4 linked regions of the Homo sapiens genome follow. The protein of the gene in region 4 purifies or fractionates together with the protein of the main gene of each other region. This does not show direct contact. Each region holds a gene or a part of one and is shown on either strand. Other genes may lie near its edges.

Region 1 (7,023 bases), on a different chromosome or scaffold from region 4:
ACATTCCAGTCACCTTCATTAGAGGACAATTTCTAAGAGGTGGTAACCCTATGGGGAGCAGTCCAGAATTACATGTTTTTTACTACGATAATTTTTTTTTAAAAAAAGGAAAAATTGGCCGGGTGCGGTGGCTCACGCCTGTAATCCCAGCACTTTGGGAGGCTGAGGTGGGCAGATCACCTGAGGCTGGAAGTTCAAGAGCAGCCTGACCAACATGGAGAAACCCCGTCTCTATTAAAAATACAAAATTAGCCGGATGCGGTGAAGCATGCCTGTAATCCCAGCTACTCAGGAGGCTGAGGCAGGAGAATCGCTTGAACCTGGGAGGTGGAGGTTGCAGTGAGCCGAGATCGCACCATTGCACTCCAGCCTGGGCAACAAGAGTGAAACTCCGTCTCAAAAAATAAAACAAAATAAAATAAAATAAAATAAAAGGATAAATTGTTTTTAAAAAGATTCTCTTACTATTACCTGAGTTAAATTGCTCATTTTATCTGAATCATTTCTTTTATGTTGAATCTTGCCTTCTTTCCCCTGCTAGTTCCCCTCTGCTTCTCTGCTGATGTATATTACTGTTTCAAAAACTATTCACATTAGTTCTGTTTAAAATGTTTTTTGCATAGCATTCTGAAGTCCTCTAAAGAACAATGTGTTGCAATCTGAAACCCATCCTGTTGCATATGGCTTAGAAAGAACTCAGTTCATTTGATAAATAACACAGGCTGAGTATCTCTAATCCAAAAATCTGAAATCCAAAACTTTTTGAGCAGTAATGTGACAAACAAAATACTCATTAGATCATTTCAAATTTCAGATTTTCAGATTAGAGATGCTCAACTGGTAAGTATAATGCAAACATCTGAAAAAAATAAAAAATCTGAAACACTTCTGATCCCTAGCATTTCAGATAAGAGATACTCAACATGTAAACCGGTAAGCCTACTTTTTTAAAGGGGTAAGTGAAAAAGCAGGAAAAACAACATCTCTTAGGAAGAGGTGACATTTGGTATTTCTCACCTTGATATCTCCAGTCTCTTTATCCTTGTACTGAACTCCCATCACAACATCATCTTCCTCTAATAACTGTAACACAACACCTTCAATAAACTTTGCACTAAAGAATAAAAAAAAATACATTTCTAAAGCAGCACATTTCAGCAATTTAAATTAAATATAAATTCCTTATCTCCAGTTTATCCATATAAACTGGACATGCATGTGTGTGCAAACACGTGTCCAATGTGTGTTTTTTATTTTCTAATTTATCAACATTTAATACATATTACTAATGATTACATTAGTAATCATTAGTAATCATTAAATATTTTAAAAATATTTTAAAAAGTAACATTGGATTTTCATCTTAATTTGTTAAAAATAAATTAATTTGTTAAAAAATAAAATATAGGCAGAGAAACTTTACATACCCTCATACATTCATACACAGAGGGGAAAACAAGTATTGGAATGCATCCTGCAAACTGTTAAGAGTAATTATTTCTGGCAGGGCACGGTGGCTCACACCTGTAATCCCAGAACTTTGGGAGGCCAAGGTGGGCGGATCACAAGGTCAGGAGATCAAGGCCATCCTGGCCAACATGGTGAAACCCCGTCTCTACTAAAAATACAAAAATTTGCCAGGCGTGGTGGCATGTGCCTGTAATCCCAGCTACTCGGGAGGCTGAGGCAGGAGAATTGCTTGAACTCGGGAGGCAGAGGTTGCAGTGAGCCGAGATTGCAACACTGCCCTCCAGCCCGGGTGACAGAGCGAGACTCAGTCTCAAAAAAAAGAAAGAGTAATTATTTCTAGTCAGAAAGATCACAGGTAATTTTTATAATCTTTATATTTGGGACTATTTTTCCATTTTCTTTTTTTTTTTTTTTGAGACCAAGTCTCGCTCTGTCGCCCAGGCTGGAGTGCAGTGGCGCTATCTCGGCTCACTGCAACCTCCACCTCCTGGGTTCAAGCAATTCTCCTGCCTTAGCCTCCCAAGTAGCTGGGACTGCAGGTGCGTGCTACCACGCCTGGCTAATTTTTTCTTATTTTTAGTAGAGACGGGGTTTCACCATATTGGCCAGGCTGGTTTTGAACTCCTGACCTCGTGATCTGCCCACCTCAGCCTCCCAAAGTGCTGGGATTACAGGCATGAGCCACCGCACCTGGCCGATTTTTCCATTTTCATACAGTGAACATACTCTTCTTCCATGGATATCAAGTCTTTTTAGTCCAAAGGATTAAGTCCACTTGCTTCTTCACTTGCTTTGTCAATACTTTAGTCTGTGTCAGTCACATGAGGGTTCTCACGCTTAAAACTTCTTCAATTAGTGTTTTAAAGGTTACTGGTAAATATAAGTTAATAAACAAGAGAAGAAGCCAGTCCTAACAGACTGGGTCTTTAGTGAGAATGAAACAGGGATTTCTCCTTGCAGTTTTGTATCCTGACTTCTAATAGAAAGTATCGTAACCACAAACTCAAACTCCAAAATGTGCACAAATGGACTTATGCCTTAGTTACAAATATATCCTCTAAATTCCCGTCACATAAAAATTATGTAATTTTCATTTAGTCAAAGGAGAACTCTTCATAGTTCCATGTCAAAGGAAAATTCTCTATATGATATTCTTAACAAAAGCACTGAATATCTAACACTCTTTTGACTGACAGTTTATTTTAATATACATATGTTCTAGACTATGCCCCAAAAATTCATTAAAATTTATAAAATCTTATTTGTACAAAGGTCAAATTTAAATGCATTGATTCTTTAGTAATTATATATTTGAAACTGTGGTCTTACTTGGGCTCTGCCATAGCTGCTTTCCGGAGACTCATGATGAATCTTCCGTGATGGAAAGCTCTTCCACTCTGCACTTGATTGTTTTCTGACAGAGGGTAAGGAATCTGAACCTCTGATTTGCTTTCCTGATCATGAATCATGTAACCATTTACAACCTGGGCATCAAGACCTTCCACTGTATCTGCAAAGCAATCGAGTTCAAAACAATCAATTCTGTTAACACACCCAGCGTTAAACTAAGAACCAAAGAAGACACACACACATCAAAAATGAGTCTCTGCCTTCAAATCTGGAGAACTGAACAAAACTAATGTAACTATTTCAGAAACTGTGAATGCTTCTGGAAGTCAATGAGAGTCTTAGCAAATCTGTAATATCATTTAAAGATAACAACATAACTATTTCAGGTCTGTAATTCCACTTCAACTTCAGAAAGAAAATGCAACATGAAATAAACCATAATCCTCTCCTGAGTAAACCTGTTCTGCCATAAAGACATAGGAACACATTTAGTCCTTCTTAACACTTCTTTCAATGTATGAATATGTAGATTTGTCACCAAAAAGAAATAAAAATAAAATAAAACCAGTATGGAAACTCAAAAAAAAACCCCAATTTATATATAATGACTGAATATATGAAAAAGTAGATTTTCCAAACCAAATGGAAAGGGTAGAGTTATCCCCCAACTGTTGATGATTACATACTATCCATTAAAAGTGACTCAGGACAAACTGCAAAGAACTTTTTAGTACATCAAATAATTTAAATGGCAGCAAACAAAACACTGAATTCATCAGAATCATGTAAAAACTTCTTTCTTAAATCTAAAGCAGCAAAAGCAGTTGAAAAATAAAAAACTTTCAATAGAAAATATCACATTTTTAAAGTGCCAACCGAAAATTAGAAAGTTAAAAAATTAATTTTAAAAATAAAAACTAAAACAATACTTTGGGAAAGACATATGAAATAGAACAAAAGATTAATACATGTATATATAATAAAATTTACTCATTAAAAACCACTGGAAAAATATTAAGACGCCAATAGTAATGGACAAAAACATGTATGGATGATTCATATAAAGCAATATAGAAACAGTGAACAAATCAGAAAAAATGTTCAAACGATAAAAAAAATTAAGTAAAAATTGAAACAACAGGACACCATCAAAATCACTGATGAGATTATGATAAAACTGATAAATTCATATACTACTGGTGATACTATGAACTAATATTATATTTTAGAAAATATAACAATAATTATCAAGAACCATGAAGAAATTAGCATCCTTCGATGTAATAATCTTACTCTTGGAAATCCATGTAAGAAATTCATCCTAAAGACATAATATTTAATAATCTTTAAAGTTACATGCAAGAATAGGTTCACTATAGTGTTACCTAAAAAAGGATAACTGAAAATAACCTAAACATTCATCTAAGTTTGAAAAGTGAAGTACATTATGAAGTCAACTGAAAAACAACTATGCTTGGGCTTAAAAAGATACTGATAAAGAATGGTTAACAGTATTGGAAATATGTTTCTGTCAAGTGAAAAAGTGGACTCTAGTATATATATTAGTGACATAAAATGTTCAAATATGGTATTGACTGGATGTCTGTGTCCTCCCAAAATTCCTAAGCTAAAACTCTAATCCCCAATGTGATGATATTTGGAGATGGAGCCTTTAGAAGGTGATTAGGTCATGAGGGTAGACTCTCACGATAGGATTAGTGCCCTTGGAAAAAAAGACAGGGGAGGGCTTGCTTCTTTGTGTCTCTCCCACCTTCCCCACCCCACCCCACCCCACCACCCCATCCCCACACAAAGTAGACAGTGCATAAATATTTCCTAAATGAATAGCCAGTGCTTAAAAAGCACTGGTTGAATGGATGAATGGTGCTTAAATAAAAGATTCTAAGTAATAACACTGTAACAAGTATACAACATACCCTCTACAAATGACAGTTCCCTTCGCCTTTCACAAAATTTAATGCCCTCATTCTAGGATTTTCCAGTCCTTAATTTTGACCATTACAATCTTTTGGCCATTTTATTATATCTCATTAAGTCTAATTCACATCTAATCATACTATTAAATGCTTATTTTATCCTTTGCTCTCACTTTCATGCAAATTTGTTGGTAAATGAGTATAGAAAATTTTATAAATGAAAATAAAATGGAATACCTTCTTACTGGTCATAGGATGGTCTAAGTGAAGAGTGCTTGTTCATACCACGTAACTCTCCTGAAAATCAATATGAACCTACCTCCAAGACCAAGGTCTTTGAGAACATGATAACCACCCGGCTGCAGGAATTCTCCAACTATTCTGTCAGGCTCTTTTAAGTCTCTCTCAATGACTGTCACCTTTCTTCCATCTCTGGAAAGCACAGCTGCCAAAGCAGAGCCAAGCACGCCAGCTCCCACGATGATAACTTCTGGGTCATTCTGAGAAGATGTTGATGTACAGGCAGCTGTTCCTATTAAGCTTGTTTCTGAAATATTGGTTCCTTTTCTGCGCTGTTTAAAAAAAAAAAGGTAAACTAGGTATCCAAATTTGTTAGATTCAAATCATGCTACCGCTATGTGGACACACTGGACTTTTGCATCCTAGGCTAAAGCTAGATACTAAATATTATCAAACCAAACAAATTGTTACATTTTAAAATCTAGATAATATATAAAAATCAATGATATCAAAATATTCGTTAAATAAAAGTGTGTCATATTATCCCAATAAAATTAAATATTTATTGTTTTCTAAACATGATATTTGGAAAATGTTATACAGACATATTTAGAAATCCACACTGGGCCGAATATAATAAATGTTTATAAGGGGCTTCAAAGACTTATTATAGGGCAAACTGTATCATTAATAACTAAATTCTTCAAATATATCCTGGGAATCGACAAGATGCAAATCACTTACAACTTCTGATTTGAGTTCATGTTACAAACTATTCGGCACCTTTTAGACATTTTCTTTTTTTTGTTTGTTTTTTTGTTTGTTTGTTTGAGACTGAGTTTCACTCTTGTTGCCCAGGCTGGAGTGCAATGGCGCAATCTCGGATCACTGCAACGTCCGCCTCCTGGATTCAAGCAATTCTCTGGCCTCAGCCTCCCGAGTGGCTGGGATTATAGGCATGTGCAACCATGCCCGGCTAATTTTGTATTTTTAGTAGAGACTGGGCTTCTCCATGTTGGTCAGGCTGGTCTTGAACTCCCGACCTCAGGTGATCCTCCTGCCTCAGCCTCCCAAAGTGCTGGGATTACAGGCGTGAGCCACTGCGTGCGGCCTTAGATATTTTCATTATTCATCTTTATTTTCTCTTTCTGGATTTTCATTTGAAAAATCTATGTTAATTTAATATCACTTTTATATGACAAAAGGATTGTCAAATCCTGCCTACCAATCTATTAATTGAAGATTATCTAAATAAACAAAATTACAAGAGAAGAAATAACTCATACCGACTCTTAGATTTGACTTGTTTACAATTTTGGTCCTTAACATATAAGCACATATTTAATTTATCCCTCCTTTTTCCCCATCCTGATACTCTAAGAGATCCTAGTCAAAGAGGTGGTCCCCAAAAAAGGAACAAGGAAAAACATTAAACCTGTCACTGGCTGAACTGACAGCAAAACTTTAACTTTGATCATAAAAAGATGCAAAGTCTTGTTTTGAGAGATTTATGACCACTAAGAACAACAGTGCACAGTGGCTTTTTAAAATGAACAATTCAATTTTGTAGTATTTCTTCTTGGTAGATGGATTCACACATTTGAATACATTTCAGATACAGAATTGCAAGGAACCACCTTCCTTGAGTTCTTTGACCTTAATGATTAAGATAAGACTAAATGCCATTTGAAGGGGTTTTTAAAAAATAATCAAGCAAAAAGGAAGACGAAGCCTAAAATCCTTTAGAACTTTACTCTGTGATTCTAATATCCACCCAGCATTCTTTTACCTCTATAGTGGACTGGGAATTTGTCTATTCTTTTTTTTTTTTTAATTTCTCTCAGAAAAATACTTTTCTGTCCTTTTACTATGGGAAGATCTCAATATTCTACTCTTCCCATTAGTATGTCTTAATGGCCAGAACTGACTATATTTAAATTACTGTAGGGGGCAAGACAAGCCCCTTTTGTCATCTTAACCAAAAATGTGCTTCTTCATAAGTTTTTCCTGTTTTATATACACACAC
Region 2 (7,863 bases), on a different chromosome or scaffold from region 4:
ATCACCATGTGAGATATATGCTTGGAAATGCACAGAATTTCTCTAGACGGATACAGAGGAGGCAGGAAATGGTGGCTGCCTCGAGAGAAGCACACTAGGTAGCTAGGGCACAAGGGTCAGAGAAAGCTCTTTACTTTTTACTATATATCTTTTTGTATTTTTACTTTTGTATTATGTGAGTGTGCTATTTTTTTAAGTGACAAAAAATAATAAACCTACAGAGAAGTCAAGAAGGATTTTTTTTTCTTTTTTCATCTTGATAGAGTCTGCCCATCTCTCCAGTCTGAGCTGTTTTGGGAATCTGAGTCTATTTCAATTTTCCTTTAATCTTTTCTTCTTTCTCACTCCCTACCTCCACCAGGAGTCTTTTTAGACTTTTTTTTCCCCTAAAACTCTCCTGTGAAATGTTAATTCCACAGATATACTGTATATCATTTATGTACTGTACATATATCTGTGCTTTATACATAAAAGGAGTTCTATAAAGTTTACTCCTGCCAGGCGCAGTGGCTAATGCCTGTAATCCCAACACTTTGGGAGGCAGAGCGGGGTGGATCACCTGAGGTCAGGGGTTTGAGACTAGCCTGGCCAACATGGCGAAACCCCAGGTCTACTAAAAATACAAAACTTACCCATGCGTGGTGGCACGCACCTGTAATCCCAGCTACTAGGGAGGCTGAAGCAGGAGAATCACTTGAACCCAGGAGATAGAGGTTGCAGTGAGCCAAGATCATACCACTGCACTCCAGCCTGGCCAACAGAGCGAGACTCTGTCTCAAAAAAAAAAAGAAAAAGAAAAAAAGCTTACTCCTTAGTTAATAAGCATATGACTAAATAAGCATATGACTAAATTTTAAAATTAAGTTAAATGTTAAATTAAAATTTAAAAGTTATTAACTTCTAACTTTATAACTGTATTTGCTGAAAAACATTTTTATGGTTTTTGAGACAGTGTCTCACTATGCTGCCCAGGCTGGTCTTGAACTCCTGGGCTCAAATGACCCTCCTACCTTAGCCTCCAGAGTAGTTGGGATTGCAGGTACATGCCACCACGCCAGATTTTTGCTGAATAACTTTTATGTAACTTACTTAGATAAATAGCAATTTATCAAACTACATGTGCAAATTTGCAAATTATATAACTACATAATGATAACAATGTAATTAAATTTAAAATCCTTCAAACTGTTCTTTTCCGACAAAACACAACTGAAAATATTAAATGAATTTCTTAAAATTTTCAATGATCTTAACTTTTAACTTTTCCTTAATATGAGAAAATAACTTTTAACTTAGTAGCTTAGAGATATTCATTCAGATGTTGTCAATAATTTTGCTTTTTAGCACTTGACATAATTTGATGGGTTGAATATTTTTTGTAGGATTAAATAATAAAATATAATCTATTTTCGTTTAATTCTCCAAGTCCAAGTGAACACAAAAGCACTAAAGATCAAACACAAACAACGTCTGCAAGGCAGCCAATGGCAGCCAATAGGCACACATATTCCCCCGCTGAGGTGGAACAATCGATCAAGAGAAAGCCCTTGGTTAATGAAGTTGTGCAGTATTTGGGATTCCTGCTTTAAAAGGAGAAAGCCCAATCACTTGCCATAGTTTTGTAGCACTGCTGTGGCGTCCATGTTGTGTATTTTTCGTGAACTCAATGTCAGTGCTGCACATGCTATACCCAAGAAAACCCAACCAGAAAAATGAAATACTAAGGAATAATATTTTCTCGGGTGGGGTTAAGCTTTGGAGGGGCACAAACCACTGTATTACCAGATTTTTTTTTTTTTTTTTTTTTGTCCACAGGAACCAATTCTCACCTTGGGATCAATATCACCCCCCTCAACGCCCAACCCATAACGCCCCCCCCAAACATAGTCTATCTTTCGAGCTACTATCTCTTCCAAGCAAACTTTGTAACATGCTTTGAGTATTTTTATACCAGAAACTTGGTCCAGGGAAACCCCATTTCCCCAAGTCCTTAAGGATCCAAAGCCTAGCTTTCGGTAGGTCATTTAATTTCTCTGAACATCAGTTTCCCTATCTGGAAAATAAGATTAATAATGCCTACCTTGTAAGAGTTGTTGTAAAAGTTAAATGTTATGTGTGTAAAGCGCTGAGCCAACATACAGCAAATGTACACGATGTCAAATATTAAGCAAGACACAGATAAAGTGAGATAGGCAGTATGCCAATAATGATCTCGCTCCAGCAAACTGCCATTTTTAGTTCTTTCTAGTGTTTGACTAGAATGAGTAAGTAGGTGAAGGACTTCGGATTATCTCAGATTTTATTTCAAAACTGCAGGAGTGGGAAGTGGAGGACAGACTACTTCAGGTAGTAGAACGACCGGGCTTCCGGTACTTACAAAGGAGTTTCCCTTACAAACGCAGGGGGACGCTCACTGTTTCTCAAAGTATCGTCCTCTGAGACAACACCAGAATCCCTTGAGTCCTGCGTAAGATGTCAGAGTCCTCAGGAGCACCGCCGACTCCAGTGCTCTCTTAACAGTTTGGCACTCCCTGGAGAGGTTTCCTAGCCTGAATGGCAAGTCCATGCCATCTTCCGACCAGTACAGAAGACAAAGGGGCTTTTTAGCCCTCGCCTCTTCCTCCCCAACCCGCAGCCCCTGCGTAAGGGGCAGCCGGGCCTTCGGGAAGCTCCACGCAACCCACAAAGGACCCGGGATCACTGCAGAACCCCCGGAGACCCGGACACGCCTCGGCAGCTCCGAGCCCGGCCTCCCACTCGGGAGAGGCTTTGGCCGGTCCTCACCTGGGCGTCGTCCCTGCCACTCGGCCCATAGTAGCGTCAGGTCGCCGTCAGCCCTCAGGAAGCGCAGCAGCTGCACCAAGAGCAGGAGCAGCGCGCACAGCACCAGCAGCCACAGCAGCAGCTCCCAGTTCATTGCGGCCGCGCACGCCCAGCTCGGGGGGAAGAAGACGGCCCGCACCAGAGTCGCGTCGCTGCCCTGCGGGATCGCAGCGCCACCCCTTCGGCCAGCCCAGAGCCGCACTGCCCCGGCTCCGCCCAGGGAGCAGGCCGGGAGGAGGAGCGGCTCGGGCGCGCCGGGCTCAGCACTCGCGGCCCCACTCGCGGTCCTTGGGCGGCCCGCGCCCTCATGCGGCACACCCGGCGGGGCCGGCAGATTGCTTGAATTCAAGTGTCCGAGACCAGCCTGGGCAACATGAGGAAACCCTGTGTCTACCAAAAATAAATAAATAAAATTCCAGTATTTTTAAAGAAGCTGATTCAAACATAAGCTACATATTATACTACGTTATTTCCTCTCTGTACAGGGACACTATCAACGGCCAGGAGACAGATAGAATCATTCTTGCTTGGCCCCTCTTCTCCATTCCTATTCAGAAAGAACATCCCCTTTTCAAGCTTCAGTATCTTTTCATGAGGTCGAGAAAGTGCTGAAGAAAGACTGTGGCTATCACTCAAGACCCCACAAGCCAAGGCAATGGTCCCTCCATGGGGACAAGGTCCTTTTACAATTAGAGAAAAAAAGACTGAAGCCATGTGCTGTGTTGGCACCTTACAACCTGATTCTGACCACACACAAATTTACTCTGGTGTCTGTTTGGCAACCAAAGCCTAGGTTGGTACCAAATCCTCCCCTTACCCAAGCCATTATTCACATCCTAATGTAAACAGCAAATAAAAACAGAGAATGTAATGAAAACACCAAGGTCTTGCCTACTCTAATACACAAAAGAGTAAAATACTGTTTTTGATTAATTTCCGTTTGAAATGACCTTCAAAACATTTAATTGCTTCCCACTAAATACCTACATGTATTTGAGGCATCAATAGTAGCATCTTTCTTGTTTTCAAGCATTTGAAAGCAAGAGGGTTTTCCATTCACAAGCCTCAGAGGGACCCAGTTAGAGTGCATAGAAACTAGGCCATGTATGAGAACGACCTGTGGCCAAATGGAGAAAGTTCTGGGCGTTGATGCAGTAGAACTTTCATCCTCTTCATTTCCTAGAGTACTTTGTGTGCTCTGATGTCAAAGGCTCTTCCTTGGCTGAAACTAAATATGACTTTAAAACAGTCATGGAAATAAAAGAAGCAGTGACTTCCCTCCCCAGTGTTGTTTTCTTTTTCTAGTCTTGCCTGCCAAACTTTTGTTTTTCTTTAAATGTTTTGAAGAATGTTACTTGCAGTAATCAAATTTCCTTAAATAGCTCTTCCTTCTCTTTTTAAATCCTATTATAAACCCCCTACCTGCCTCCCCACCCTCATCCTTCTCTAAAAAGCTTTTTGGGGTTATCTGGACTCAGAGTCATCTTTCCCTAATCTCACCTCTTTTCACAATTACTTCTGAACTATATCTGAAATTGTTTTTTAATTATTTTCAGGGTTAATATAGTATTGTTCCAATGGAACTTTAGAATCCTTGAAATAAAGTAGCAAATCTGATGCTTCTTTTGAAGAGTCTGGAATACATAGCTTAGTGTTGACATGAGAAGCAATAAGCCCACGTTGATTGAATTCTCCTTTCCTTGAAATTTAAACCTCCTTGATAGAGAGTAGAAGGATAGTTACCAGAGGCTGAGAAGAGTAGTGGGAGGGTTGGGGGGGACGTGGAGATGGTTAACGGATACAAAAAATAGAAAGAATGAATAAGACCTAGTATTTGATAGTGCAATGGGGTGCCTATAGTCAATAATAATTTAGTTGTATGTTTTAAAACAACCAGAAGAGTATAATTGGATTGTTTGTAACATAAAGGATAAATGCTTGAGGGGGTGGATACCCCATTTACCATGATGTGATTATTACACATTGTATGCCTGTATCAAAGTATCTCATGTACTCCATAAATATATACACCTACTGTGTACCCACAAAAATTAAAAATTAAAATTCAATTTTTTAAAACCTCCTTGAAGTTCGGAAGTTAATGTTAAAATGAGAGTTGCTAGCATTTAATAAATCAATCTTCTCTAAGTATTATTAAAATGCTTTGAATAAAGTCCGAAAGTCTTTTCTATAACTGGTAACCTTCATTTTTAATTCCAGATGTAATAGAATGGTACCCTGCCTTCCCTCCTTTTAGTAATGGTCACTTTTGATGGTCTGGGGTCAGGCCCATTCATGGCAGCTAAGGCCCATTCATGGCAGCTAAGGCCCATTCAGGTCAGCTAAGATGAAGGCAGTTGTGCGTAAGCAATTGCCATCTTCCATAACAAAAGCATTATACAAAAATAACTTTAAAAATCCAGATCCTCCAAGATCGGCAGTCCCTAGGCGGGGGAAAAAAAGAGTGAGTGGAAACTGTGAGTGGAAACAGGGACTGAGGAATCTAGGGAGGGAATATTCTTCCTCAAGAACAATAAGGGGTTTGTGGTTTTTGATTGAGGATGTTTTCACATCCCTTAGATGCTTTTGGAAATGTGTTGGATGAACAGTGGCCATAGTGCCAGCTAGCCAGGGTGTCATCAGAGTGCTAACGATCTGGGCACTATGTAAAGACATACCCAACAAAGAATTGCCCTGCCCCAAAAGCTCACAGCACCCTTACTCAGAAATCCTGCAACCTGGCCACGGTGGAGAGGAGCTCTGCAATCTATTAGCAGCCTCCCTCCACAAGCTCTGGCTTACACCTGCCTGGCTGTACCCCAGCTACAAGCGTTCAGGTCATGGTCTAGTTTTCTGATATTCTTCAGGCAGACAAGGTCTTACCTAGAGTCTTATTTATAAGAAAATATAACTTACTTTCTTACCTTTAGTAATCTCATGGGATCCCTCAATAGGAATATCTCACTGCACTGTTCACCACATGCAGTTCCCCATATCAGTGCATTGATATTTTGTTTAGATTAGCCAATTTCCACAGTATCTTGGGTCTCTTAAACATAAGCAGTTTATAGCTCTCATTCTCTCTCCCTTAAATGCTCTGTTTCAAACTTCCCTTTATATATCTTGTCCATGATTTAGTAGTGGTGGTTGTTATTCTAATCTAGAACTTCAAACACTCATGCACACATGAGTACATGCAAAGCTGGTGAAATTTGAACGAGGTCTGTGGATTTTGCCAATACCAATTCCCTGGTTCTGTTATTGTTCTAAAATTATGTAAAATTTACTAGTGGGGAGAACGGGGTACAGAGTACACGTCTGTTCCATCTTTGCAACTTCCTGTGAATCTATAATCATTTTAAAGTAAAAAGTTAAAAAAATTAGGTTAAATTTCTTAAAATATGCAAATATTTTCTTAAAATTCTAAAACTGATCAATGCTTTTTCCTCTCCTTCTCTTTTTTCTCCCCTCTCCAGCCAGGACCAGCCTTGGAGATAAGCAGAGTGAACAGAAATTTATGGTCTCAGATTTAAGAAAAACAAAATTCTTTCTTGCTTCTTAAATCATACTCCATCCCATTGGCTTGCAAACATGCTGACACTCCTCATAATTTCACTCTTCATAAACCAAAGCATAAGGTCAGAGGAGAACTTGACATATTAGAACACTTAGGCATTGAAAGTGGTTAGTCTAACTAACCCATTGAAGTTTTGGAGAACCTGGGACTCAAATTTTGGAAGATGTGACAGATGATATGTTAACATACATTGCACCGAGGCTGAAGTGGGAGGATTGCTTGAGACTGCCTGGAAGGCAGAAGTTGCAGTGAGCCGAGACTGATGGTGTCACTGCACTCCAGCCTGGGCAACAGAGCAAGACCCTGTCTTAAAAAAACAAAACAAACAAACAAAAGAAACCAAAAAAAAAAAAAAAAAAAAAAAAAAAACCATTGCACCAAGTAACAGTCAACTTTTCAGCAGAGGTGAGTAGAGTTAATCAGTTAAGGCTTTCTGGAATACCAGCCCACCTCAAGGCCTTGTACATACTGTTCTCTCCACATAGAGGGATGGCCAGAAATCCCCCAGATGGATCCAACAATGCTCACCTCCTGTGTGCAAACCACCATGTATTTCCCTCCCAGGTTGTATCAGGGTTGATCACTGTAACCAGCAGAATGCTGCAGAAATGATGAGTGTGTGACTCCCAAGGATAGGTCACAGAAGCTATTGCAGCTTCTACCTCTTGCTCTCTCTTGTTTATACCTTTACTAAAGTATAATTCGAGTACAAGAAACTGCACATATTTAAGGTATACAACTTGATGAGTTTGTCAAATATATACACCTGTGAAACCATCACCACAATCAAGGTAAACATTTCAATCACCCCCAAAAGGGGTGACCCTTTGAAATCCACCCATCCTCCACCCCTTCCCTAGGCAGCCACTGATCTATTCTCTGTCACTGTATGGAAACACCTTACCTGTTTCCTCTGTGGGATGTAAAGTCCCATTTCTGGATCCTTTCAGGTCCCTGTCTAATGTCTATTCTCTTTGCCTTGCCCTTACTTTTGTTCAGATCAACTTTAGCCTTAGCAGGGAATTTGGTTTTGTAATTCCGAACCCTAAGCAGTCTTGGATTGCTGTCTGCTGAGATGGGGCATGAGAGCAGTGAGGAGCGTGATCTCTTTTAACAAAGCCGTATGCTGTTCCCAGCTATCTAAGACCAAGGCTTATCTCTTTCTAGTAGGATCTTGACAGGAGCCACAAGAAGTAACCAAGACAACAAGAGTTAACCTGTCCATATGCTTTCTAATTGCCAGGCCTATTCTAAGTGCTTTATATATATTAAATCCCTTAATCTTCACAATAATCCAGTTAATTAGGTACTATTTTAATTCCCATTTCCCTGATGAGGAAGCTTAATTGTGATTAAGTAACTTGCCCTAGGTCACACAGCTAGGAGACAGGGTCTTTGAACCTAGGTAGTCTAATTTCAGTCTTTGCTCTTGAACCACCATATAATACTGCCTCTCACACCAG
Region 3 (7,091 bases), on a different chromosome or scaffold from region 4:
ATGATATGTAATCTCACTGTCATTGGCTAGTCTACAAATTTCAAAATAATAATCTAGTCAAATTGTATTAACTGAAAGCTATCAGAAAACATCATAATTGAAGTTGTGATAGAATACCAAAATTTCTAGCAACTTTTTCTCATGACTTTTTTGGCAACACACTGCTATAAATAAACATCTCTCACTGCTTAAACACTAGAACCGAGTTATAATTTAATCACTGATATTCCAGAGGTTAAAAGTAGGTTTCATAAAGTATGTTCTACTTCACAGAACCAGAAATCGAACACAGTGAACAACCAGTTCACCACCCTCCGCAAATCTATGGAAATATTTCCATTACAAAGTAAATTTCTCCTGCCACGCAAGTTTTAAACTGTCACTCTGCGCTGTTAGCCTAAACAAAACATAATTGGTAAGGTACATCTGCCACATACAGAAGTCAATAATCCATTCCAAACCCAAAATATTTCTGGATTATCTTGCTCCTGAAAATTGACACTGGTAGAAAATTAGTGATCCAGAAATAGGCAACTTCCACTAAAAGGCAAGTAAAATTAGGTAAGTAAAATACAAGACTGACATAATTTTATAATAAAGGGCAAAATTTTAAAGGCTCAAATGTCTTAGTGAATACAAAATTAAAGGAGGACCGAAAGAGAAGTTAAAAATTCAGCTTTTTACAAAAGAAAAAGCACCTTCCACTCCACCTCTAGCCCTAAAAAAGTCTTTCCCCTTCCACTCCTACAATATTAAAACAAAATTTATATACTACTCAAAACTGTATACCACAAAATTTAAGCCATCAGATGCTGGAAGGCTTAAACAAAATTAAAATCACTACCTAGCATTAAAATACAATTTGTACAGTGACTTCAGGTCCCTTGAGAGAAGAACTTACAGTCACAGAGAGTAAATGCTTGATGGGCAGAGTCTGGATCTGTGTTCTACAATCTACCCAAAATGGGCAAATGACATTAATACAAAATGTAAAGTACACTATGTACAGGCTCCCAACTCCTTTCCCATCTGCTGTGGAAAGTATTCCCGGGCCGGGCGCGGTGGTTCACTCCTGTAATCCTAACACTTTGGGAGGCCGAGGCAGGCGGATTACTTGAGGTCAGGAGTTCGAAACCAGCCTGGCCAATACGGTGAAACTCCGTCTCTACTAAAAAATACAAAAAAAAAAAAAAAAAAAAAAAAAATCAGCAAGGCGTGGTGCCATACGCCTGTAACCCCAGCTACCTGGGAGGCTGAGGCAGGAGAATCGCTCGAACCTGGGAGGCAGAGGTTGCAGTAAGCCGAGATCGCGCCACTGTACTCCAGCCTGGGCGACACAGCAAGACTCTGTCTCAAAAACAAAAACAAAAAAAACCCACAAAAGTATTCCTTTGCAAGAGTTACCACCTCTGCCTTGAAAGGTGTCAAACCATCAAAGCAAAAGTGGCTTGCAATGTCAAATTAGCACAGACCTGGGCTATAAGCACACTCTTCACGCGTGTACTGTGTCCAGGAACAATTTCTCAAAGCGGCCAAGGGGATGCTGCAAAGCCAGTGACGCGGCTGCCCTCAATGCAGCAACCACATAGAGGGAGAGTTTCTCAACAGTCCCAGAAGCGACTCCTGGGGATTAGGGTAGGCTTCCCTTCCATTTCCAATATGCTGCTTATAAAAGGAGACGATTCTGCCCGCGTTGACAGCACCCTGAGTCCCCATGAACACGCGAAAAGGTTTCTAGCTCCTATCAATGCCGTTCGGAAGCAAAGCAAGTGTTCACGACTCGCCTTGATCTGGGGCCCTGTCCAGGGTGGGAAGGCCCCAGAAGCAGGCGCCAGGACAGAAATGAGCCTTTGCCCTTCCCAATCCACGCAGCGTCCCGCCCAGGCCCGGGTTCCCGGCAGCCAGGCCCCCTCCCCGACCTCCAGCTCACCTGATCTTGTAATTCGGTAGGGTGTGCTTGCGCTTGATGATCTTCTTGAGCTGGTTGACGATGATGGAGGTGAGCTGGGGCATGGGCCGCCCTTCAAACTGGGAGCGCACCTCGAAGTCGATCAGCGGGTCTTCCACGAAGGAGAAGAACCAGTGGGTGAAGGGCACGCGCGTAAAGACCAAGCGCAGCCTTCCCACCACGCGGGACAGCTTGACAAACAAGTAGGCGGACTTGCCGAAGACCAGGTCCACGTCGATGGCCAGGTGGAAGCCCCCGTTGTACTCCACCTCCGCCTCGAAGGCCAGCTCCTCGGGGCAGGCGGCGGGCAGCGCCTCCCCTTCAGGGCCATCGGGCTCCCCGGTGGCCGAGGGCACGACTGGCCGCACGAGCCGGATGGTCTTGATGAAGGGCACCGTCTCGCCCAGGAACACGTCCCGCAGGCTCAGCCCCTCCAGCAGGCGCCCGGCCGTCTTGGTCTGCAGCAGCTCCTCGAACTCCACCTTGATCTTCTTGGTGACCCAGCGGCGGGTCAGCGCGGTGTCCCGCAACTCCCGGAACAGGAATAGGATGGTGGCGTTGAGGAAGTAGCAAGTCTCCCGCGTCGGCGGGGCGGGGGTCTCGGGGGCCGCGGTGGGGGTCGCGCCGCCCTCAGGGGCCGCTCCGGAGGGCTCCTCATCCCGGCCGCCGCCATAAAGGTACTCCCTTAGGAGCAGGCCCGGCACTGGCTTGATGTAGCGGAAGCCCTCGCCCGCGCGGGCGGCCTCGTCCGCCGGCGGCTCGGGCTGTCTGCGGTACAGCAGGAAGAACTGGGCGAGGAGCGTGAGGAAGGAACCCAGCACGGCCGACGCCAGGATCATGAGCAGCAGCCCCATCCCGCCACCGCCTCCGCCCGGGCCCCTACTCCCGCGCCCACAGCGCCGCTTTCTTCACGCCGCCGCCCCCGCTGCCTCCATTTTGAGGACATCGGGCGGCTGGGTCGGGGCGAGCGGCTCCGTGGGCCTCGTCCAGGGGCTCGGGCCGGCGCGCTGCGGCGCCCGAGCCCGCAGCGGCCCGCGCCTCCTCAGACGCTCCCGAAGGGCCGGTGTGGCGGCGGCGGCAGCGGGGCCGGGACCGGCGCCTCCCTCAGGCCTCCACTCATTGGACGAGCAGCGCGTGACGTCAGAGGCGTGCTCGCTCCCGGCGGCGTCGCCCAGCAGTCGGCGCCCGGGCACGCGGACGCGGGTCCTCCTTTACTTCTCTGCGGCCCTTCCAACCTCGTCCCCCCACGCCAACATTCCAATCCCCGCGGCGCGCGCCGCCACCCACGTGGCCGTCACTTCTGGAGCTGCGGTCGGGATCTGGGAGGACGGCTGGGGACGCGGGCTGGAGGATAAGGCGGTCCGGCGGAGCGGGCCTGACGCGTTCCGGATGCCGGCCATCCCGTTATCCTCGGCTGCGCCCATCCCCCGTCTCTGGCCGCAGTCCCCGCGGTTACCTCTGCAGCGGCGTCGCTCATCCTGCGGTGTGCTTCTTCCACTCGCACCCGTGACAGCCCGGCTGGCAGCGGCGCTTTCCCTGCGGGCAGCACCGCAGACGATCCGAGCGGGCCTTTCGGACGCTTCCCAAGCCCACGGCGAGAGGGGACCGACTGCCTCAGAGGCAGCCATCGCGGACCTGCCGTCCCCCCGGCAGACGCTCTGCGTCCGCGGAGGGTGGGCCCTGGGAAGGAGGGACGCAGGGAAAGGGCGCGCCACGCGGAATGACTTTCCCACCGAGGTGGATCTTCGAAATTTCAGGGAGGAGGAAGTTGAAAGAACAGCCAGGAGGAGAGATGCATAGTGAAACGAGTTTGCCAAGTGATTGGAAGATTAATATGCGACCCGCTGTCAGTCTCTGGTTAAGCCGGTAGTCCATCTATGAGGCAGTTATTCACTGTTAGCCCCCACCCACTTGACAGATGCCAACACTGGTGCAGAGAGCGTGGGGAGGTTGCGTGGGGCCGCAGAGTGGAGCCTGGTTTATCTAACACTAAACCCTAATGTCTTGATCACTACTCTCTGCCCTAACACAGAAACTGCTTCAGTTGTAAGCAGGCCAGTGGGTTCCCTAATGTTCAGGAAGGGAGAATTGGGGAGGCGGATTAGGGAAGACGGCAAGGAATTTTGCATAGAGTAGCACCTTAACCAAAGCCACGAAGCTAAGCCAGGTTGCCCAGCAACAGCGTTACTCCTCCTGCCCTCTGACTACTTAGTGGTTACATCATAAATGCTTATCCCTCCAAGCACGTGGAGTTCCAGTCCTGCAGGAGTCAGATATCCCATACCTTAAAGGCCGATTCTGGCTGTACCTAAGGAGCCAGGGCAGGGCTCCTCTCTAGCCCTTGAAAACCTTCAAGCCGGCCGGGCGTGGTGGCTCACGCCTGTAATCCCAGCACTTTGGGAGGCCGAGGCGGGCAGATCACGAGGTCAAGAGATCGAGACCAGCCTGGCCAACATGGTGAAACCCGTCTATACTAAAAATACAAAAATTAACCGGTCGTGGTGGTGCGCGCCTGTAGTCCCAGCTACTCAGGAGGCTGAGGCAGGAGAATCACTTGAACCCGGTAGGCGGGGGTTGCAGTGAGCCAAGATCACGCCATTGCACCCCAGCCTGGGCGACAGTGCAAGACCCTGTCTCAAAAAAAAAAGAAGAAAACCTCCAAGCCAAGGATTCTCTTAACTGTAGGTGATTCTACCACAAAAATAGACCTGACCCAGCTGGGACAGGTACAGAACTTCGGAACCAGGCTTATCATGCCTTACCGAATCATGCCCAGATACGAAACCAGAATGGCTTTCATTACTATGAAGACATAAGATAGGTGTCTGCTGAGGAACCATGCTCAAACCATGGCCGAGATTTTTCGGAGATCTTGGCAACTTCTGTTCTCTGGTCCCCTTTGGTTCCTGGCCTCTGCTTCTGGGCTGCTCTCTGGGATCTACACTGTTTCAACTCAAATGAGAAATGTAGACCCTTCTATGATTTCCACCGTAAACCTATTCATAACATTCATGCACATTGCATATTATAAATGTTACAGAAGCTGGAAGTAGGGTGGCATGAAAGAAGTTATTCACATTCCTGAAATATAAAACCCTCAAACTGTATATTGATCCATCCCGAGTTGCAAAATATTCTTCACCCACCTCCCTCCTCAACAATGAAAGTTTGTGGTCTTCATGGGAATGAGTCCTCAGTCTTCATCTTGCAGACTCCTTTCTTTTCTCTTCTCCTCTCACTTCTGCGCTCCTCAGAATACCTGTGAGAATCTTAAATCTTCTCAGTTTGTTTTACAGAGTCAGAGTCATTGCATTCCCCAGCAAAACTTGACCCCTTAGGGACACACTTCAAATCCATGAAAGAGCTCAGCAAACCTTTTGGGAAGAAAAAAGTATTCTCCCTTGTGTGAAACATGACCAACATTGATTAAACACTAATAATAATAATACAGAGAACTGACCATGTGCCAAGCACAGTGTTAAGCATGTTATTTAGAAATATTTAAATATTTCAAACATTATTTAGAAATCAAAATATCATGAGTTTTTGTAAAGTCAAATATGCAGTCATGCACCATAGAAGGATGTTCTTGTTAACGACAGACTGCCTATAGGATGGTGGCCCCATAGGATTATAGTACCGTATTTTTACTATGCCATTTCTGTGTTTAGAGATGTTTTGATACACAGATACCATTGTGTTATGGTTGCCTACAGTATTCAGTACAGCAACGTGCTGTATAGATTTGTAGCCTAGGAACAATAGGCTATACAATATGGCCCAGGTATGTAGTAGGGTTTCCCATCTAGGTTTGTGTAAGGACACTCTGATGTTCGCACAATGATGAAACTGCCTAAAGATTCACAACTTATGTCTGTTGTTAAGCCACACTTGACTGTGTTTGATAAGTTAGGAGATAATGCTCTGGATAATATTGGTGTTAGCATGCCCTTTATTTTATGAAATTATACTATGTTAATAGAGACGAATTTGTTTTAATGCTATTTTCTGGAAAAGGATAAATTCAGCAACCCCTCCCTTTTTTTCTTATATTAATGCTGGTTCATAGAAACTCAAAAGCCTGAGAACCACTGGCCCCAGCTCTGAAGATCGATGATTCTGAATAGGTTTTTAAAGGAAGCAGTTGTGCTTAGCCTCCCTGCTGACTTTTTAATGTGTTTTAAATGACATCATTGAAATTAAGCTGCCCCAACAGCCTTCATGGAAATATCCATTTCAAGGTCGAAGTCAGTTGAATACTGGAAGATGGGTTGCATATAAGACATTCTCACCAACTAGAGGGATGCATGGACCACTGCTTGACTATGAATCATTCCTGGTGACCGCGAAAAATAATGAGAAAGCCAAACCACGTAAATGTGCAAAGTTTGTGAGTAGCATGAAAGCAAATTTGATTTTTTGAAAGATGTAAAATAATGCAAATATAGTGAAATATGGTGGGAAACATAGAGTTTATAAGGTTTGCCTAACAAATGATACATCAACAAACCATTTTGTGAACTGGGAGAATTCAAATTCCACAACTATTTTTTGAGCATCCAACAAGTACTAGGCTCCAGGGATACTGAATGAACAGGGGCGCTGCGCCCCAGGTGGAAGCAGACACACATCTGCATAACTCTGATGATAGGAGATAGTGCTCTAATAGAGGCACATGCAAGGTACTATGGGAGCAGAGCCTTCTGGTTCAGGGGCAGTGACAATTGATTGCAAGGAACAGCAACTACCTCAGGCTAACTTACAACTAAAATTGGATTCACGTTAAGGATGCTGGAATATCTCCAGGAACTCAGCTGCAAGATGTTCATAGAAATCCTAGAGTAAGAAAACTGTCTCTCACTCTCATTTCCTCTGCCCCCACCCCTACCCAGTATCTTATTTCTGCATCTCCCTGCAGGTCTGTGCCATTTTACTCCAGAAGGCTCTTGGTTTCTACTTCCCCATTACCCTCAGCACACAGGCACTTTGGGAGGCACCAGCTCTCTATCCAGATCTAGAGGGTCCTATGTCTCTGATGGCTAAGGTAGCCTGCAAGCTCAATCTCAAATCCTGGGAGAGAAATCTCCAATTGGCTGTGCTACTCCAATAATTTATGACCAAGGAGCTTGCCTCTTCTGGGCTG
Region 4 (7,569 bases):
AGCCCATCAAGGGGTACAGGATCCCAGAGGTGTTGCGCATGCACCAGTATCGGCCTGAGTCCTGGAGCTTGAGGGCCACCATGGTGATGTTGACCACCTTGGCCTGGGCATCGTCCTGCAGCAAGTAGCGGGGCCCTTTCACCCAGACTCGGGCAAAGCCAGGCTCACACTTCTTCTTCCTGATTTTGCACCAAACCTTGCCCTCCACGCGGTTTTTGTAGCCCTTATAGGAGCACTGCACAGACAGAGTCTCCCCTTCAAGGAGCCTCACTTTTGTGTATACACTGTCAGCAGAGGGGCCTGTGGAGACAATACTTATTGAATAAGGTCTGGCAAGAGGAGAGGAAGAAGACATCATGAAAGTTGAAGATCATGGTGAAGGGTAGAGTGGATATTGTCCTGCTGTCACAGAACCCACAGATTGAGGGGGAAATACAGCCCCGCCTTCAGGGAGCTTGCCCCAATCTGAAGGGAGGTGAATGGGCCCTGAAAACAGCTAGCTTCCAGTATTACAGTGGAGACACAACCCCCGCTCTCAGGGAGCTTTCAGTCTGATGGAGGAGGCAGGTATATCCCTCAGTGAGTCCCCAGTCTAATGGAGGAAACGCAGCATTTACACTCGGAGCTCCATCAGACACAGCCCCTTTCCTCATGGTATTTTCTAGTCTGATGGGAAAGTGACAAGCTCTGTCTTCAGGGATTCCCAGGGAATTCATTTTTGTTTTGTTTTGTTTTGTTTTGTTTTGTTTTTGAGACGGAGTCTCGCTCTGTTGCCCAGGCTGGAGTGCAGTGGCACGATCTCAGCTCACTGTAACCTCCGCCTCCTGGGTTCAAACTATTCTCCTGCCTCAGCCTCCTGAGTAGCTGGGACTACAGGTGCCTGCCACCACGTCCGGCTAATTTTTTGTATTTTTAGTAGAGACGGGATTTCACCATGTTAGCCAGGATGGTCTCAATCTCTTGACTTCGTGATCCACCTGCCTCGGCCTCCCAAAGTGCTGGGATTGCAGGCGTGAGCCACTGTGCCCGGCATCCCAGGGAATTCTTGTGGGAAAAACCCAGGTCATGCCCTCAGTGAGACAGATGCAGAGACACAAACACAGGTCATTAAGTTGTGAAATTTCAGTGCCCAACTAACTAGGTAGATAAGAAAATCTAGTATTTGAAAATATGATTAACAGTTATTTATTTCACAAATAGGTTCACTTAGTCCTCTTTAAATAATAACTCTCCTTAGTTCATTCCATCTGGTGTTTAGTTTTAAAATATTCTAGTTACATAAAACCCATAGATCAAGCCTGTCTAAATATACATGTAAACAAACTCCCAATGGAGTGTGAACCACAGGATTCTACAATTATTCACTTTCCACCTGCAATATCTTTCTCTCTATGCTGAGGAGTAAGATGTGGTCCAAGCCTTCATAATCCACAGTCTGGTAGAGACAGAGCAGAACTGGGGTGTGCAGGGTGACTCAGGGGACAGAGAGAGGGAGAAAGCTGCCTTGGGCTCCCTCCACCCCTCTGCCTGCCTTAAGCTCAGCTGACTCTTCTGATAATTTCACCCCAGAGTCTTCCAAAAAAACCACATATAAAAAGACTCTCCCCCATAGTAGAGAACAGAGAGCACACATTTTGGAGTCAAAATAAACAAGGGTTGAAACCCTGTTTCTACCACTTAGTGGTGTGATTAGGTCACCTGTTTGATACAGAAATATCAAAACAGACACTTGACTGATACAGAAATATCTCTGTTTCTTTATCAGTCAAGTGAGAATAGCACCACACCCCTCACAGGTTGCTGTGAGAATTCTGCCCCAGGTCAGTGCTTTGCACACAGTGCATGCTCAACTCATGCTTCCTTTTCCCACATGCTGGGGCCTCCCAGTTCCCCCAATGGAACCCAGAGCTGTGACAGTCAAGGGCCCAGAATCCAGGACATCTGTCCCACCAGAATCCAGGATATCCGTCCCAAGTCCCAGCCAGCAGCCACTAGAGCTGAGGCTCTGTGTGAAGCAGCACCCTCTCTAAGCATCCCTCTGTCCCTTGCAAACTAAACAGAATGATCCAACTTCATTATTTGGTGGATGAGCCCAGGATTTCTTAGCACAAGAGAGACCCCTTTCTGCCCTGGCAGTGGGAAGCTGTTTCTCTACCCTCTGGGAGGTGCAGAGTTGGGTGACCTTGGGATGGGTCTCCAGGGCAATGTCTTCATGTGTGCCTACACCTCCCACCCCTCTCACAGGCAGTGGTGAGTTTTGCCAACCCCCACCATGCCCAGAACTGAACAGGAAGTGGTAACTTGGTTGCCATGGCAGCGAGAGGGGCAGGAATGGGTGAGGTTCCTCAAGGAGCATTGGTATCTGTGAGGTGGGAAAGGCATTCACACACTGGTCCCTTCAGGACAGAGGCAGGGACAGGATGTGGCATCAGCATTTCAAGAAAAATGTTCAAATTCAGTTCAAAACACACATGATGCAATGATTGCTGTCATAACTAAGCAGGGCTTCCTGACAGAGGCCAAGCAGAGAAAGCTATTTGTGTGAGGAAATTGAGGGCTCTGCTTTAAAGCCTGAGGAAGCCTAGCAGATAAAGGAGCCAATGCAGAGAGGGTCCAGAGCTTTATCTTGGCTTGGGAGGCCTGGGTTAGCTTCGCCTGGGGCCTGATATTAGGGTAAAGAGCTAAGTCAGCCCTAATCTCCTCCTTCCCCAACCCACAAAACACTAAACAAGAAAACTGCTGGTAAGGAGGGTAAGAAAAAGGCCCTGAGCTCCTGCCTCTGTACCCACTCCCTCCTCCACAAGTCAGCCCCTTCTCCCCTCACCTGAGACGCAACCCTGTGGCCACAGCAGCAGCAGCAGCAGGAAGGCTGGGGCCATGGTTCCATCCAGCTGGGCAGTGTCAGGCCTGGAGATCCAAGGTGAGGGCCCACCCGACACAGGATGTGCCACCTGGGCCTGCCAGGGAAGGACCCGGGGTTCTAAAAGTGAAGCTGCCCATTTAGGGAAGTGAGGCAGTGTGGGACCCACTGCCCCCAGCCAACCGCAGGGATTCATTGAGCCTATTATGAGGGCGGTGCTGGCAGCTGTTTCCGCCCTTTTCCTCGGAACTTCAGGCAGGTGTGGCTGCTCCACCCAGTCTGGGGCCCCAAGCCGGGAGGACTCACAGTCAGAGGGCTCCCCGCCCTCCCCAACCTCCCCCAGAAACTGGTCCCTAGGATCCAGCAAGGGGGCTGGGGTGAGGCTTCTGGAACGTCAGGTATAGACCTTCCTGGAATCTTCTGGGCTCAGAGACCCAGGGGTGCGGGCTCTTAGGCTGAGATGGAGCATCTCAGACCCTAGTTTCTTACATATATACATTCACAGGGAAGTTCTTATAAACTCTCATTCATTCATTCATTGCAGATTCTTTCTGTTCCTTCCTCTCTCTCTCTCCCAGGCTCCTGGCTGCTCAGAACAGTCACTTGTGTTCACTGTTGCAAATAACCTCTTACAGGCTCACTTGAAATCTTACTTTTGTCAAGCGGGAAAAATGCAAATTGTTAAGACTCAGGGCATAAATTTTGGGTTGAGGGAGGGGTTCCTGTACTCTCACACACAGGTGTGCATGCACATGCACTCACACTCACAGTCTCACTTTGTCTTTTATTCACTTTCACACACACACACACACGCCCATGCACACAGTCTCACACACACCCCAGCAGCCTCTCCTTTTCCCTATCCATACGTCTCCTCTCTCTGTCCCTCTCCCTGCCTCTCCTCCTGTCGACTCTACTCACCATCAGCTCCCTCTAGACTCCTAGTCCCTCGTGCAGGCTTCCTACAGCCTCCGCAGTACTTCCCCTCACCCACCTCATCTCAAGACCCCCTTCCTCCCCTGCCTCCAGCCTACGTCAGCACGCAGGCAAGTGCCCTCCACTTCCTCCTGCTCAATGCTATCTCGCCTGTACAGCCACCAGCTCCAGTGGAAATGACCCAGCACTAGGCCCAAGACCACACCCTTCACTTACCCCAAGGCCTAGAATCAGAAGCATCAATTTTTGATGTCCGGTACCTGTGTCATCTGCTCCTTCAGTGTGTGGGGACCCAGCTGGACTCCCGTGATTATGTATGCTCCCCCTACTCACTAGTGCCATGTTTCTACTCCTTAGATGGGACTGTCAAAAGGTAAACTGAGGCACAATAAAATTTTAAACAGATTATTTCAGCAAACAACAATTCATGAATCAGGCAGCTCCAAACAGAAGAGGTTGAGGAGCTCCACTGGGGGAATGCAAGGGGAAGACTCCTACAGGACAAGTAAACTGAAGAAAATATTTAATTAGTTATAGTTATATAGTTCCCTTATTTGGCCTATCCTGTTGGAAAGACCCTAGTTAATTATATAAGTTTCTTTTGATTGGTTGAGCTTAAGTTCTATTTTTCCTTAATATACACATTTACAAGAAATAGCTCGTGTTAAGTTTCACTGATATTTGCAAATCAAGCAAAGTTGAGGTCACTTATGAGGCCTAACTGTTTTTTTAATTTTTGCTCAGGGACTCTTCAGGCCTGGTCTCCATTTTCATTAATTTTAACAGGACTCAGAGCAAAAAGTCCTCAAGCTTGCATGGCCACAATCTTAAATTGACCTTGAAGCCCCAAGCTCCAAGCAAAGAAGTCTATCTCGGCTGACCCTAAGCTTTTGTAGTCTCTCAACTCATTCACTCACTCATTAATTCATTCATTCATTTGTTCATTCCCACAACCTCATTGCTATGCATGGGGCTAGGTAGGCACTGGGGGCGTAGGAATGAGACACGATTGTCACTTGAGACCTCTCAGCTCACAGACGTGTTTTGTTTTCCTTATTCACCCTTCCTTTTTCAATGTTTCTCACCCAGTCCTCAGAACTTCCTGAGCTCCCTGAGTTCAGGGGCCATCTCCCCTCCCCAGCACACACAGTAAGTTCCTCCATCCCTTCCCCCATCAGAACAGTAAGTTGCTTCAGGAGTGGGGGATTTATCTCTTGTGGGGACTTTATGCGCTTGGAATCCATGATTCTATGAAACTGATACAGTGCGCCCAGCACTGAGCCAATCATCGTCTAAAGTGTGACCCTTGGGATCACTGTGCTGATGAGGGTAGAAAGAATCAAACATTCATTCGCTGATCGAGGAAGTATGCACTGGATTCAATCTTTCTTAAGAGAAATTTGGAAGCATTGGTCAAAATCATTAAAAATACGTATACATTAGACTTTTACATCTATCATTTGATTTAATACAGCAGTGTATTTTGTCTTTATATTTATTTTTCCCATTTAAAAATTAAGGCCTAATTTACATACAGTACTATTCACCCTTTTCAGTGACGAGTTCTGGGAGTTCTAGAGACTTGTATCCAATGCCGTAATGGAGACAGAGAAGAGTGCCATCATCCCGAAAAGCTTTCCTCTGCTCCTTGTTAGTCATCCCTTCAGTCCCAGACAAACACTGATCTGGTGGGGTTTTTTCCTGTCATTTCTCTCTTTCCAGAATGGAAAAGTGAAGCACTTTATGTTGATTTATTCTGGTGAAGTCCAATATATAATTTTTATGAATCAATTTTTATGTCATATCTAATAAATCTTTGCTTAACCCAAGGTCACAATGACTTTTTTCAACAATTCTGTGAGCTATAATTCACATAATATAAAACTGACCCATCTAAAGCATACAATTCAGTGGTTTTCAATATATTCACTGAGTTGTACAACTAACACCAATTTTGCAGGATTTCCCCACCCAAAGAAACCCCATGCCCGTTAGCAGGCACTCCCTGGATCCGTTTACTGCAGACTTGGTGGCTTAAAACAGTATTAAGTTATTGTCTCGCCATTCTGAAGGCAGAAGTCTGAAGTCAGTTCACACTGTATTGAGATGAAGATGTCGACAGGGCTGCAGTCTCTCCAGAGACACTAGGGAAAAATTTGTTCCTTGCCTTTCCAGCTTCAGGTAGCTGCCAGCATTCTTTGGTTTGGGGCTGTTTTACTCCAATCTTCAAGGCCAGCATCTTCAGTCTCCCTCTGCTCCATCTTCCCATCACTTTCTCCTCTTTGTGTTCAAATCCCACTCTGACTCTCTTACATAAGGATACATGTGATTGCATTTAGTTCCCATCTACGTAATCCAGGATAATCTCACCATCTCAAGATGTTTAACTCACTCATATCAGCAAAGATCATTTTTTTTTTGTTTTTTGCCATATAAGGGTAACAATCACAGGTTCCAGGGATTAGGACACAGATATCTTTTAAGAGACCATTTATCAGCTTACCACAGTCCCCATTCCTACAGTCCCAGGCAACCACTAATATTTTTGTCTTTCTAGACAAAAATATCTTCAATCAAAAATGCCTTTATCAATTCTGGATATGTCATAAAAACATAATTGAACAATATGTGTTCCTTGTGACTGGATTCTTTCATTTGGCATGTTTTCCAGGTTTGTCCATGTTGTAGCTGTACTTGTGCTATACGTTGTATTAATACATCATTCCTTTTAAAGGCTGAATAATATTCCACTGAATGGATATATATGTTTACCATTTATCAGTTGACAAATATTTTATTTGTTTCCACTGTTCAACTATTATAAGCAGTGTTACTATGACTATTCATGTACAAGTTTTTGTGTGGACATACGTTTTCATTTCTCTTGAGTACATAACCAATAGTAGAACTACTGGGTCATATGGCAACTCTATGTTTAACATTTTCAGGAACTACCAATAGTTTTCCAAAGTGGCTGCAAATTTTACACCCTCTCCAGCAATGTATGAGTTCTCATTTCTCTACAATCTCTCCAATACTTGTATTGGCTTTCTGTTTACAGCCATCCAGTGAATGTACTTAAGTTTTGAATTGTAGTTACCTAATGACTAATGATATTGAGCATCTTCATCTTGAGCATGCACAATTTGCTCATTTGTATACCCTTGGAAAAATATTTATTCAATTGTGTTGTTTGTCTTTTACAGCATTTGAACAATGTTGTGCCACATTTTTCTGGCTTCAATTGTTTCAGATAAGAAATTCACTACAATTAGAATTGGTATTCCTTTATAGATAATTATTTCTCTCTGGCCATTTTTACGATATTTTCTTTGTCTTTACTTCTCAGAAGGCTATCTATGCTGTGTCTTGGTGTGTATTTCTTTGGGCTTATTATATTTGGGATAAAATCAGATTCTTGTATTTGTAACTTTAGGTCTTTGGGCAGATTTGATTACTTTAGACGTTTCTTTGAATACATTTTCAGTCTCACATTTTTTCTCCTTTCCTTCTGGGACTCTGATGATGCAAAGGTTAGCTCTTATGTTAATGTCCCGCAGATAGCTGACGTTCTGGTCATTTATTTTCAGTCTGTTTTCTCTCTGATCAGACTGAGTAAATTTTCTCAGTCTGCCTTCCAGTTAACTAATTACATCCTCTGTCATCTCCACTCTCCTACGGAGTCCACGTAGTCAGCTTTTAATTTTGGTTATTGTCGTTTTTAGTTCCCACATATTCTATTGTCATTCTGTTCCCAGAAGAAGAAAAAAGAG

What was found.
Region 1: the proteins of TREML2 (region 4) and SQLE purify together in Homo sapiens (affinity purification with mass spectrometry; 2 studies listed by BioGRID and IntAct, with this or other methods). This does not show direct contact.
Region 2: the proteins of TREML2 (region 4) and DHRS7 purify together in Homo sapiens (affinity purification with mass spectrometry; 3 studies listed by BioGRID and IntAct, with this or other methods). This does not show direct contact.
Region 3: the proteins of TREML2 (region 4) and PDZD8 purify together in Homo sapiens (affinity purification with mass spectrometry; 3 studies listed by BioGRID and IntAct, with this or other methods). This does not show direct contact.

Annotation. Positions count from the first base shown.
Region 1 is NC_000008.11:125,001,482-125,008,504, reverse strand, and holds part of SQLE (squalene monooxygenase), read right to left. Parts: intron 5,330-7,023; coding exon 5,077-5,329; intron 2,981-5,076; coding exon 2,800-2,980; intron 1,115-2,799; coding exon 1,018-1,114; intron 1-1,017. UniProt on the Homo sapiens protein: Catalyzes the stereospecific oxidation of squalene to (S)-2,3-epoxysqualene, and is considered to be a rate-limiting enzyme in steroid biosynthesis.
Region 2 is NC_000014.9:60,162,393-60,170,255, forward strand, and holds the start of DHRS7 (dehydrogenase/reductase SDR family member 7 isoform 1 precursor), read right to left. Parts: upstream 3,007-7,863; 5' UTR 2,918-3,006; coding exon 2,785-2,917; intron 1-2,784. UniProt on the Homo sapiens protein: NADPH-dependent oxidoreductase which catalyzes the reduction of a variety of compounds bearing carbonyl groups including steroids, retinoids and xenobiotics.
Region 3 is NC_000010.11:117,372,426-117,379,516, forward strand, and holds the start of PDZD8 (PDZ domain-containing protein 8), read right to left. Parts: upstream 3,016-7,091; 5' UTR 2,803-3,015; coding exon 1,931-2,802; intron 1-1,930. UniProt on the Homo sapiens protein: Molecular tethering protein that connects endoplasmic reticulum and mitochondria membranes. PDZD8-dependent endoplasmic reticulum-mitochondria membrane tethering is essential for endoplasmic reticulum-mitochondria Ca(2+) transfer.
Region 4 is NC_000006.12:41,198,130-41,205,698, forward strand, and holds the start of TREML2 (trem-like transcript 2 protein precursor), read right to left. Parts: upstream 3,021-7,569; 5' UTR 2,880-3,020; coding exon 2,825-2,879; intron 301-2,824; coding exon 1-300. UniProt on the Homo sapiens protein: Cell surface receptor that may play a role in the innate and adaptive immune response. Acts as a counter-receptor for CD276 and interaction with CD276 on T-cells enhances T-cell activation.